4 separate regions of the Homo sapiens genome follow, and all the other regions are linked to region 3. Evidence: fine-mapped expression QTL. A gene starts in region 3. Each other region holds a variant in brackets. All regions are shown on one strand. Distances are from middle to middle.

Region 1 (2,692 bases), 140 kb after region 3:
GTAAGAATACAACATACCTTTCATTCCTACTATGGTGATTTTCGTTCTTACTGTTTGTTTTATATTAGTTTACAGCAGCTTCTCCCAAAGATGCTGAAGAATGGGTACAGCAGCTGAAATTTGTATTGCAAGGTAAGATAAATCAATCGAACAAGTTATCACAGTCTTTAAATACTAAATAACAGAGTAGTTTGGGTTTTCATATACAAAAGCTTATTGACTTCTGTGAGAATGACCAACTTGAATGTGACTGTTATTAATACAGACCACTCACTTCAGATTTTAAACAGCATCTTTTCTATAAGTACCAATTGGCTTACTTTAAAATTCACATATTTACAAAACAATTTTTAAACATGTTTTTAGTTAAGGACATAACATATAACAATATTGTTGTTGCTTTGTAGGGCTGCATTTATTTATAAAGTATAGTTTTAAAAATATCTTCTGCATTCTTTTAAAATTTACTTCATGAAATGTGTTTTATAGATATGGAATCTGATATTATTCCTGAGGATTATGATGAGAGAGGAGAATTATATGATGATGTTGATCATCCTCTACCAATAAGCAATCCACTAACAAGCAGTCAACCAATAGATGATGAAATTTATGAAGAACTTCCAGGTATTTACTTTCTGGTGATTCATTTAAAGATTTTAGGGCTGTGTGTGTGTGTGTGAGTGTGTGTGTGTGTTTGTGTGTGTGATTTGTCCTCGACAGCTTGAGTAGAAAATGGTGACCTATTGAGAACAAGGACAAAGAATATCTTCAAAACTCTATTTTACAAAAAGGGTTCTGCTTGAGATATTTCAAGTGAGTAGATGTAACTTACGAAAAGTGAATGAAACATTAAAATGAAGCAGATACAATACTAATCTCTTGGGACTTGTGGCTCATTAGCATTGTTTATGCTACATAATTTTTTAATTAAAAAATTGACTTGCCTTACAGTTTTTTCCACCAACTCACACATCGTTTTTTATTTATACATCTTGGAACTTCCATTAACCAGAAGTTCTATGCACACCCCAGATGTTACCAACTTCTGCCTCGTATTTCTCCTTGCTTGTAGTATATTGCACTGTCTCAGAGGAATGTTGTTGAACTATAAACAAAGGCCTTTTGAGGCTTCAAGTCTTCCTGTTGATATTTTAGCATCAATATGGAATAAAAAAGTTTTCTTATTCCAAATGCTCAGACCTAGTTTAGTGTTTACATGCCTGTCTGTTATGTAACATAAAATTAATTA[T/C]CTATTAGCTACTTGACTTGCGGCCATGAGGATCAATCTAAAATAAAAAGACATCTGAAATTTAGGAAACATATGAAAACATTTAGGAAATTGTATTACTAATACTCTAGGCTGAAATGAGCTTTTTTGGCTATTAAAAAATCAGTAGTTAGAGAAGAAAAAGGTATCATAAGCAATATAAGCAAGATTTAACTAGTACATCTCATGTAGAGAGGCCATTTTGCTCTGAATATAACAATTTAATGATGTAATGTTAAACCTTTAAAATTGATTTCAAAAATACTTAAAATGTTCCAAATTAATGTACAAATGTCATTTTCAAGACAATACAGCATAATACCAAGAGTATGGACTTTAGAAGAAAAAAATTTAAATTCTGGCTGTACCATTGACTAGCTTAGTGACTTTATAAGTTAATTTCTTCATTTATAAAATGGAAATAATGTCATTGGGAGGGGTAGGTGAAGTGATTTATGGAAGGCTTTCAGCATAGTGCTTGATCCCACAATTAATTGTAACATCACCATCATTTTTGTTTTATTATTGTATCTGGTGAATTCTTGCAAGTGCTTATGTGGTGGTACAGTAATGGTTTTCTAACCAAGTAAAAAGTAATAATTTTAACAATATTATAAATTTAAGGTATAAAAACTATGTATGCATCTACATATTGTATTTTACTACCCCAGAAGATTAGTATAAAAGTATAATTTTATGGGGAATAGTGATCTGTGTATTTCAGTTGTTTAGTGGAGCTACATGTTTATTAACCCCTTCCTTTCTGGTTTACCCTAAGGAAATGGCATCTGCTGTAGCATCAGTTATCCTCAAGTAGGGAAGAATATTCCCTGGCTGCTTGTTTTTGGTCACACCATATCATTAATACAATTATTTTAGTATTTAAAAATGTTTAAAAGAACTTGTGAGAATGTATACTCATAAAATGGAAGAGTGGAATACATTTAAACACGATATTACTGCCATTACATCCTTTTAAAACCCTGCAATGAATGTGTTACATTACAATTGTTGAAATAACTGTTAAGTTCTGTATTTTTTCAACTTGGCTGTTCTCTCCCCACCCCTAAAGAAAAAAAAAATTGATCAGGAATAAAGACCAGATATTCATAGTTATTTTCATAACAAAGACCTAAGGAAGGTCTGAGTAGCTTGAAATTTTAAAAATATGAAACATCTTTTATTTTTTCTTACTGGAGATATTATTCTTCATTCTTCCTTGCCCCCCTCCTCACCCACCCTCACACATAATTGTTGGAAGTAACTGGTTACTTTTTAAGTAGTGTTACTTCTTGCTGTGGTACTGGGAGAAATTTAAGCTGCCCTGGAATTTCTTTTCCCCTGCTTGGGATCCCCAGTTGCTCTGCAAAGTGATCGAGCTTGATGGAGCCTGCACCTGTGCCCCGGGAAGGAAGCCGTTGT
Region 2 (2,692 bases), 59 kb before region 3:
TCCAGTTTAGAACAGAAATCTAGTCTGTGGGCCTAAGTGATCAGCAAAGGCTTGGCAGTGAATCAGGCCCAAGATTCGAATAGAACTCTTCTTCCAGTAAGAGATTCCAATATCACCTTAGAAAATCCTAGCAGAGGTCTGATCAGAGTGGGAAAAATACCTACACTAGGATGAAGGACCAGAGGGCCATAGGCAGGCTTGTGAATTTTTACTTTGCTATAGACAGCAAGACTAACTCCACACCCCTCTTGGTGCTGGTCATGATTAGTTTAGGAGAGGAGTGGGGTTGAACAGATAGTAGGAGGCCATTTGTGCCTGCAGCAGATCTAGACTTAGGGGAGAAGGAAAATGACATCTCTCCTCTAAAATGCGGATTCCTTCCCTCAGAGTCTCTACAGTAATCTTTTATGGGAGTGATATGACAGGTAAGTGGTAGAGTTGTGAGCCTTCAGGGAGAGAACTAACTTAAAAGCACTCTGAAATATTGCCAAACGGCATTCATATGTAAGGCATTAGAATAATAATGATAATTATTGCTTGTAGTAACTGATGTCTGAGAGGGCATCAACCTGGTATGGTAGCAGGTGACACAGAAGGAGAAGAGACCATGAACATACAATGAGCTCATTTCTCTTCTGCTCAAGGAACCCAAGTAATTACAAAACTTCAGCATATGTTTTGCATTACACATGTGGCTCTGTCAAAAATGATGGAGTGGTGTCACTTTATGTCTCTTTGAACTAAATGAGAGAGAGAGATGAGAAGTAAGTAGGCAAGAGACTGTATTTGATTTTATCTTTCTGCTTAAACTGTGTTTTCAATTTATAAACCAATTGGATACAAAATACTTATTACAGAACATGACTCTTTCCTTTTATATTAGAGGAGTTATCAACAGAGTGGTTTCTTGTGCTTATTAGAATCTTTGTTCAAATAAAGCCAAGTAAGAAAAATGGGTTGGGCCTCATCTGTCAGAGGGCAGAGGTAAGAAATAAGTAGACAAAGCACAGTATCAGAATGCATTTGACTGCAAGAAATAGAAAAGTCATCTGTACAGGCCTAAACAAATGAGCTTTGTATTTCTAACATAACAAGAAGTCTGGAGGTAGGCAGTTGCCTGAGTCAGTTCAGTAATCCAATGATTTCAGGGCCAGCTTCTTC[A/G]TCATTTTCCTGGCCAGAATATAGCTACCATGGCTCCAGTCACCATGTCCATGTTCAGGACAAGAAGGAAGACTGGTAGAGACATTCTACTTGTGGAGTCTTGTCTTTTTATTAGCAAGAGAGCCTTCCCTAGTGGACTTTCCCTTTGTCTCCTTGGCCAGGATTCAGTCATGTGCCCACTTATTGGCCAATCCCTGAGGAAAGAAAAGAAAATTACTATGACTGATTTAGACCAATTTCAGCTCATTCCTTGTTGTTGAGGTAGGGGTCTACCCTTCCTGAAATCAAGGGATCTCTTTCAAAAACCTGAATACAAATTGGAGTTTTGTTACCAGGGAAGAAGAGAGAAACATTTCTTGTTTAGACTAGGCACAGTGTCTGCCTTATGTGCCAGTGGATCAAAAAGTGGCTGCACACCCAATTCAGGGTGGGGAGACTCCTGAAAACTTAGTACAAAAAGATTCACAGAACTCTGCACATTAAACTAGAAAGTTGTCCCTGGCTAATCTTGTACTCCAGTATCTCCATTGCAGAGTCTTATGTGGTTCTTTCTTTCTCACTGCAAACTAAAGATGAAGGATTCTTTTGGGAGGCTGAAGTGGGCAGATCACTTGAGGCCAGGAGTTCGAGACCAGCCTGACCAACATGGTGAAACTCCGTCACTACTAAAAATATAAAAATTAGCCGGGCATGGTGGCAGGTGCCTGTAATCCCAGCTGAGGCAGAAGAATCACTGTAATCCCAGCTGAGGCAGAAGAATCACTTGAACCCGGGGGGTAGAGTTTGCAGTGAGCTGGGATCATGCCACTGCACTCCAGCCTGGGTGACAGAGCAAGACTCCGTCTCAAAAAAAAAAAAAAAAAAAAGGATTCTTCAGCCAGTGCATAGCCCACTGCAATGGGTGGTCTCCTGCCCTTTTTCTTTTTCTTAAAATTTGTATTATTTTAATTATTTTTATGTACAGAAATCTCAACAGTGTGCATTTAACCCAGTTTGGTGGCAAGTTCTTTAGCCTTTGCCTTTTCAAGCTTGGCAATGCGAGCCACAGATTTGGGACCCAGGACATTGCCTCCCCAGTGACGGCAGATCTCATCGTATCTGTTGTTGTAGTTGGTCCTGATAGCTTCCACTAGCTTAGCCAAAGCTTCTTTGTCTTCCAAGTTCACCTGTGTGAAGGTGACAGTGATCCAGGTCTTCCTGTGGACTATATGTCCCAGTCTTGCCTTCCTCTTGATAATGCAGGGGAAGAGACCCCCATTTTATGACACAAGGCAGGTAGGAAGACAAGCTTGATGGGATCCACATCATGTACAGTCACCACCAGCTGAGCCTTCTTGTTCTCCACCAAGGTGGTGACGGTGTTAACTCCTGCTTGAAGGACAAGTGGTCTCCTAGTGGAGATGTCCCCTTTGCTGCAAGCTTTCTTCTCAGCCCGGACCAACAGCCTCTGCTTCTTCTCTTGCTTTGTCTTTCTCTTGTTTGGTCTGTAGTTGTGGGCCAGCTGAAGCAACTGAGTAGCTGTTTGGTGGTG
Region 3 (2,692 bases):
GAAGATGGCTTATTTCCTTAAACATCATGAACCAACCTCTGCTAACTTCCAACTTTTCTTCTGCAGCTTCTTTACCTCTCAGCCTTCGTAGACTTGAAGAGAGTTAGGGCCTTGCACTCGATTAGGCGTTGGCTTAAGGGAATGTTATGTCTGGTTTGATCTTCTATCCAGAACATGAAAACGTTTCTTTACCAGCAATAAGCCTCCTTCGCTTTCTTATCATTCGTGTGTTCACTGGAGTAGCATTTTTACTTTCCTTCAAGGACTTTTCCCTTGCATTCACTACCTGGCTGTTTGGTGCAAGAGCCCTAGCTTTTGGTCTGTCTCGGCTTTCAATATGCCTTCCTCACTAAGCTTAATCATTTCTAGCTTTTGATTTAAAGTAAGCTTTTGATTTAAAGTAAAATGATTCTTTTACTGGAACACTCAGAGGCCATCGTAGGGTTATTAATTGGCTTAATGTCAATATTGTTGTGTCTCAAGGAATGGGGAGGCCCAAGAGAGGGAGAGATATGGAGGAAGGTATAGGGTTGGTAGAGCAGTCAGAACACACACATTTATGGATTACAGTCGCTGTCTTATATGGGTGCTGTTTGTGATGTCCCAAAGTAATTATAATAGTAACTTCAAAGATCACCATAACATATACAATAATAATGAAAAAGTTTGAAATATTGTTAGAATCACCAAAATGTGACAGAGACATGAACTGAGCACATGCTTTTGGAAAAATGGCGCCCACAGATTTGCTTGATGCAGGGTTGCCACAAACCTTCAATTTGTTAAAAAATGCAATATCTGGGAAGCACAAAGATGTATGCCTGTTAAAGGTTTTAAAGAAGCCATTTTTTTTAAAAGAGAAAACTTTTAAGAAGCTTTACAGATAGAAGACAGTAAGTATTTGTTGACTAAATGGTCAAGTTGGAGTGAGCAGATTTTATAATTTTATTCTACTAACCACCACCAGCAATTTTATTTTTGATGCTTGTAGATGGACAGTGGTGCCAATGTCTATTCGGCCTTCTGTTTTTTTGTTTTGTTTTGTTTGTTTTTTCCTGCCAAAGGACGGTGCTTAGAACTTCCCAGTCTTCCTTGTAGTGGGGAAAATCTGTCACCCCAAGGATACGAATTAGGTAGAAAAGTAATGTAAGAGCCAATCACAACGCGCGCTCCGGAGCGGCTCCAGACTGGCTTCGCCCGGACGACTGGCGGAAGACGAGACTTCGTTACCTCCGTTCAATCGGACAAAGAAGGCCATAATAGTTTAGGACAAGAGAAAATTCCTTGTGGGTTAAACTGCGGTGGGACTGACTGTTACGCAGAAGGCGTAATCGCAAAACTTGTATACACTCTGTATCATGGATACATTATTTTCTGGAATCCTGCAGAAACGATCAGCAGTTGTGATGGCACCAGTACCGAAAATGGCTGTAAGGCGCTCCGGACGCTGGATCAGGTGACGCAGCATCAGGTGACGCAGCCTCAGTCCGCCCCCTTCCCACCAGTGGCTCCTCCTCCTGCTTCCCGGCGTAGCGGTGGGCGTGGCTTGCCCACAGGCTCTTTCTTCTGGGGCCGGGAAAACCGAGGAATACACATGCGCAGTTGGACCCCTCAGGCCCTTCGTGTCCCTTCCCACCCATCTCCCCGCCCCGGCCCTCTGGGCGGGGCTGGGCCGACAGTCCAGCTGCAGCTCGCTGGAGATTCAGTGACTTCCTTGTTGTGAGCCCCGGCCCGGCAGTGTCCCGACTCGTAGCCCCGCTGTTCTTAATCCGGGCCGCTAGCCTGAGTCTAGGTCGCAGCCGCAGCCCCACCCCGTCGGTCACCTTTTCAGCGCAGGTCCTTTCCCCGCACGCCCTGCGCTCCCTAACATGCCCAACCCCAGCAGCACCTCCTCTCCCTACCCCCTCCCTGAGGAAATTAGGAACCTGTTGGCAGGTAAAGAGCGGGAAGGCGGCGATAATGCTGTCGGGGCGGGGGCGAGGGAACGGTGAGCCGGTGGGGACAGAAGCATTCAGAGCCCTTATCCTCCCTCCCCGCGCTTCCCACGTCTTCTAGCCAGTGGGGTCGGCACAGGGAGGAGAGGAGAGGGGTTGTTTTGTCTCAGAAAGGGAGTGGACGTGTGTGTTGAAATTTGGTGCGGGGATGGTGGCGAAGCCCTTTTTGGTGATCTACACAAATGGGATCAGGACGTTTCTATGTGCATTGTGAAGACGGTGTGTGTGTGTGTGTGTGTGTGTGTGTGACAGAAGGGCGGGGGAGGAAGAGTGGAAGAGGGAGAGAGAATGATAATGATAATGAATGCTGCGTGAGCAAGCAGAAGGGAGCAGAAGTCAAATAAGTAGTTCTTGGGTGGTCTGGCCAATGGAGGTAGAGGATGTAGAGATGCAAAGAGCTGTCAGAGCCACAGGTGTTAGGGGTTATGGGGTGAAAGAGTTTGTCATTTCTAAAACTCCCGTTTTTCTTAAACATTCAGCTCACTCACGTTTAAGACTTTTGAAGAAGGTCTGGTTCTCAAATGGCCACTTGTCCCCAGCCTCAGTAATATATTAAAGCAAAAAAGGAAGGATATGTTAAAGTTCTACTTCCTGTGTGACACGATGAAAGTACTTCATCTTTGTACCCTTATCTTCCCTTTTTCAGTTTTACATTACCATTTATAGGAACTTATTTTAGGAGCTAAAAACGTGGTTCT
Region 4 (2,692 bases), 49 kb before region 3:
ATCCCAGTTACTCCAGAGGCTGAGGCAGGAGAATCGCTTGAACCCAAGTGGCAGAGGTTGCAGTGAGCAGAGATCGCGCCACTGCACTCCAGCCTGGGTGACAGAGCAAGACTCTGTCTCAAAAAAAATAAAAAATAAAATAAATCCGAGACTCATCCGCCCGACAAATTCCTCTCAAAATATGTCTCCTGAAAACCTGATGTGTATTTCTCTGTTAAACATTGAGATCTGTGAAACCCTTTGAATTCTCCCTTCTGTATTGACTAAAAGTTAGAGCTAAACTTCATGCTTAATGGTACTAATAATTTTATTCTAGTTTCCTGATATACATTTTCTTTCTCCTTCCTCTGTGGTGGTCTGTGGAATGGTGTTGGTGGTCTCTGAATGCCTGAGTTAGTATACAAAAGTGTGTGTTATGTGTTTTGTTTGTTTGTATATACTTATTTGCATTTTCTGGGGAAAGAGCACAAAGTTTTCATCAGATTCTCAAAGGGATGCATTATCTCCCCAAATTTAAGGACTATAATACTATCTGGTGTTTTATATTTCTGATCTCACCTTTAACTGTTCTGTCTTTATAACAATTATGTTTGCATTATAAACAACCTAAATCCTTTTTCTTTTTTTTTCTTTTTTTTCTTTTTTTGAGACAGAGTCTTGCTCTGTCGCCCAGGCTGGAGTGCAGTGGCATGATCTCAGCTTACTGCAAGCTTGGCCTCCCAGGTTCATGCCATTCTCCTGCCTCAGCCTCCCTAGTAGCTGGGACTACAGGCACCCGCCACCACTCCTGGCTAATTTTTTGTATTTTTAGTAGAGACAGGCTTTCACTGTGTTAGCCAGGATGGTGTCGATCTCCTGACCTTGTGCTCCACCTGCCTTGGCCTCCCAAAGTGCTGGGATTACAGGCGTGAGCCACCGTGCCCGGCCCCTAAATCCTTTTTCATGGGGAGAGAGGGAAGGAAAAGCTAGATGGCAGTAAAAATTAAACAAATACAAATACAACAGCATATTTTATTGTCAAGTACTCAGTCTGTTAGTAGGTATGATTTTGGGGGGCTTTCTCCCCACTAGAAATAATGGACTACATCGGTATGGTATACATCTATATGAAAATGTAATCTGATGTCTTTTAATTTTTTTTCCTGGCTTAAGAAAAAAAAAATTATCTAGACAGGTCTATCTAGAAGGTCTCCTATATGAAGCATCTCCTAAATACTATAGGGAGATTATGTACATAGAAAATTCCTTTACCATGTGACATTGATATACATATTGACTTGGGAAGGAAAAACTCCACTGTGTTGTACTTTTTTCTTTTTTTTTTTTTGAGGCTGAGTCTCACT[G/C]TGTTGCCCAGGCTGGACTGCGGTAGCGCCATCTCCGCTTACTGCAACCTCCGCCTCCCGAGTTCAAGTGATTCCCCCACTTCAGTCTCTCAAGTAGCTGGGGTTACAGGTGCCCACCACCACCCTTGGTGATTTTTTGAATTTTTAGTAGAGTCTGGGTTTCAGCATGTTGACCAGGCTGATCTCGAACTCTTGACTTCAGGTGATCTGCCTGCCTCAGCCTCCCAAAGTGCTGGTATTACAGGTGTGAGCCACCGTGCCTGGCCTGTGTTGTACATATTAATGTGAGATTTTAAAGACAACTCCACAGGACTTGCCTTGCTAATTTGGAATCTTGTTCAGAGAAAAAGACTTGATGAGAAAGGATCTCAGGAGATCAAATAGTAACACCATACCATTGGAGGAGCAGATATATTGCCCCTTAGAATAAAATATCTTCTATCTTGATTTTTCAAAATAATTTTTTATGAACATATTGTGAATTACACAGGACACCAACTCTGCTGCTTTGGGAGCAAAAAGACAGAGCTGACAGATGTAGATATTTGCCAGGAACAACCATGTGAATTTATAAATATTTTACAAGTGCAGCTTTCAGAAGAGTGACTTTTACTGCCGTATTAATGCAACTTGCAAATTTATAGTCTGGGCACTTGTGGGTTATGAATGTCCAGTATTCAAGGCTAGTGCCAAGAACATAGTTTATGTTTTGAAATTCTTTTTTTCTCTGATTACAGACTTCTTGGCTGTTAAGATCTACATTATAATTCAGCTGCACATGAGGTGCAAGGCTACATAATACATCAGTTTCCACTCCCAATGGCTAGACTCATAAATATACTCATTACAACACACTTCATGTGACAGAATGACATACAAAGCATAAAAATATCTCTATAGAGTAGAGAACTAGTGGTAGTAGAAGCAACAGTAGCATGATTCCATGCCTCTGGCCAGACCCATAATATGTGACCTAATATTATAATTATTTGTCATAATATAAAGAAAATTTGAATCATACGTTTTTAGAAATAATATCTTAGTATATATTAGATCAACACACTCATGAGTGTTGTCATATGTATTGAAGGCTACACTACTGAAAAGAATTTAGTTACTCTAATCTTTTGGCAGGGAGATTATGGAGGAAGAAGCACCACTGCAACTCTTTCCTTGTAAGTTTCTAAGTTGCTTTTCCACTGATTGTGCCCAAAGTAAAAGAGTCTTTCTAGCATTCCAGGCTCTGGAGAAAGAGAGCAGATTTATCTGGGCTTGAGCAAAAAACAGCCTGGGGTGAAATCTTAAAGGTGACCAGACTTTGGTCACATGTCAGAGGGTTCTCCTTTTTC

Direction of the effects. Alleles are on the strand shown, and positions count from the first base shown. SD is a standard deviation of normalised expression in the study named. Not every link is listed here.
With allele T in place of C in region 1, the expression in sun-exposed skin of the gene that starts at base 1,708 in region 3 is lower (small effect, 0.22 SD a copy in GTEx).

The links. PIP is the estimated chance that this variant, and not a neighbour inherited with it, causes the effect.
Region 1: its variant is fine-mapped to the expression of SKAP2 in sun-exposed skin (GTEx, PIP 0.93).
Region 2: its variant is fine-mapped to the expression of SKAP2 in whole blood (INTERVAL, PIP above 0.99).
Region 4: its variant is fine-mapped to the expression of SKAP2 in whole blood (INTERVAL, PIP above 0.99).

The regions. Positions count from the first base shown.
Region 1 is chr7:26,723,363-26,726,054 of GRCh38, reverse strand. SKAP2 (src kinase associated phosphoprotein 2) reads left to right here. Exons shown (of 13, transcript NM_003930.5): 8 at 69-132; 9 at 490-627. Among named protein-coding and RNA genes, the nearest start is that of LINC02860, 87 kb to the right of the region's middle. The variant T/C (reference allele first, on the strand shown) is at 1,253.
Region 2 is chr7:26,922,365-26,925,056 of GRCh38, reverse strand. It overlaps the pseudogene RPL7AP38. Among named protein-coding and RNA genes, the nearest start is that of SKAP2, 59 kb to the right of the region's middle. The variant A/G (reference allele first, on the strand shown) is at 1,162.
Region 3 is chr7:26,863,606-26,866,297 of GRCh38, reverse strand. It overlaps SKAP2 (src kinase associated phosphoprotein 2), which reads left to right and starts at 1,708. Exons shown (of 13, transcript NM_003930.5): 1 at 1,708-1,935. The coding sequence starts at 1,869. RefSeq lists an enhancer at 1,141-1,470.
Region 4 is chr7:26,912,597-26,915,288 of GRCh38, reverse strand. No RefSeq gene overlaps it. Among named protein-coding and RNA genes, the nearest start is that of SKAP2, 49 kb to the right of the region's middle. The variant G/C (reference allele first, on the strand shown) is at 1,344.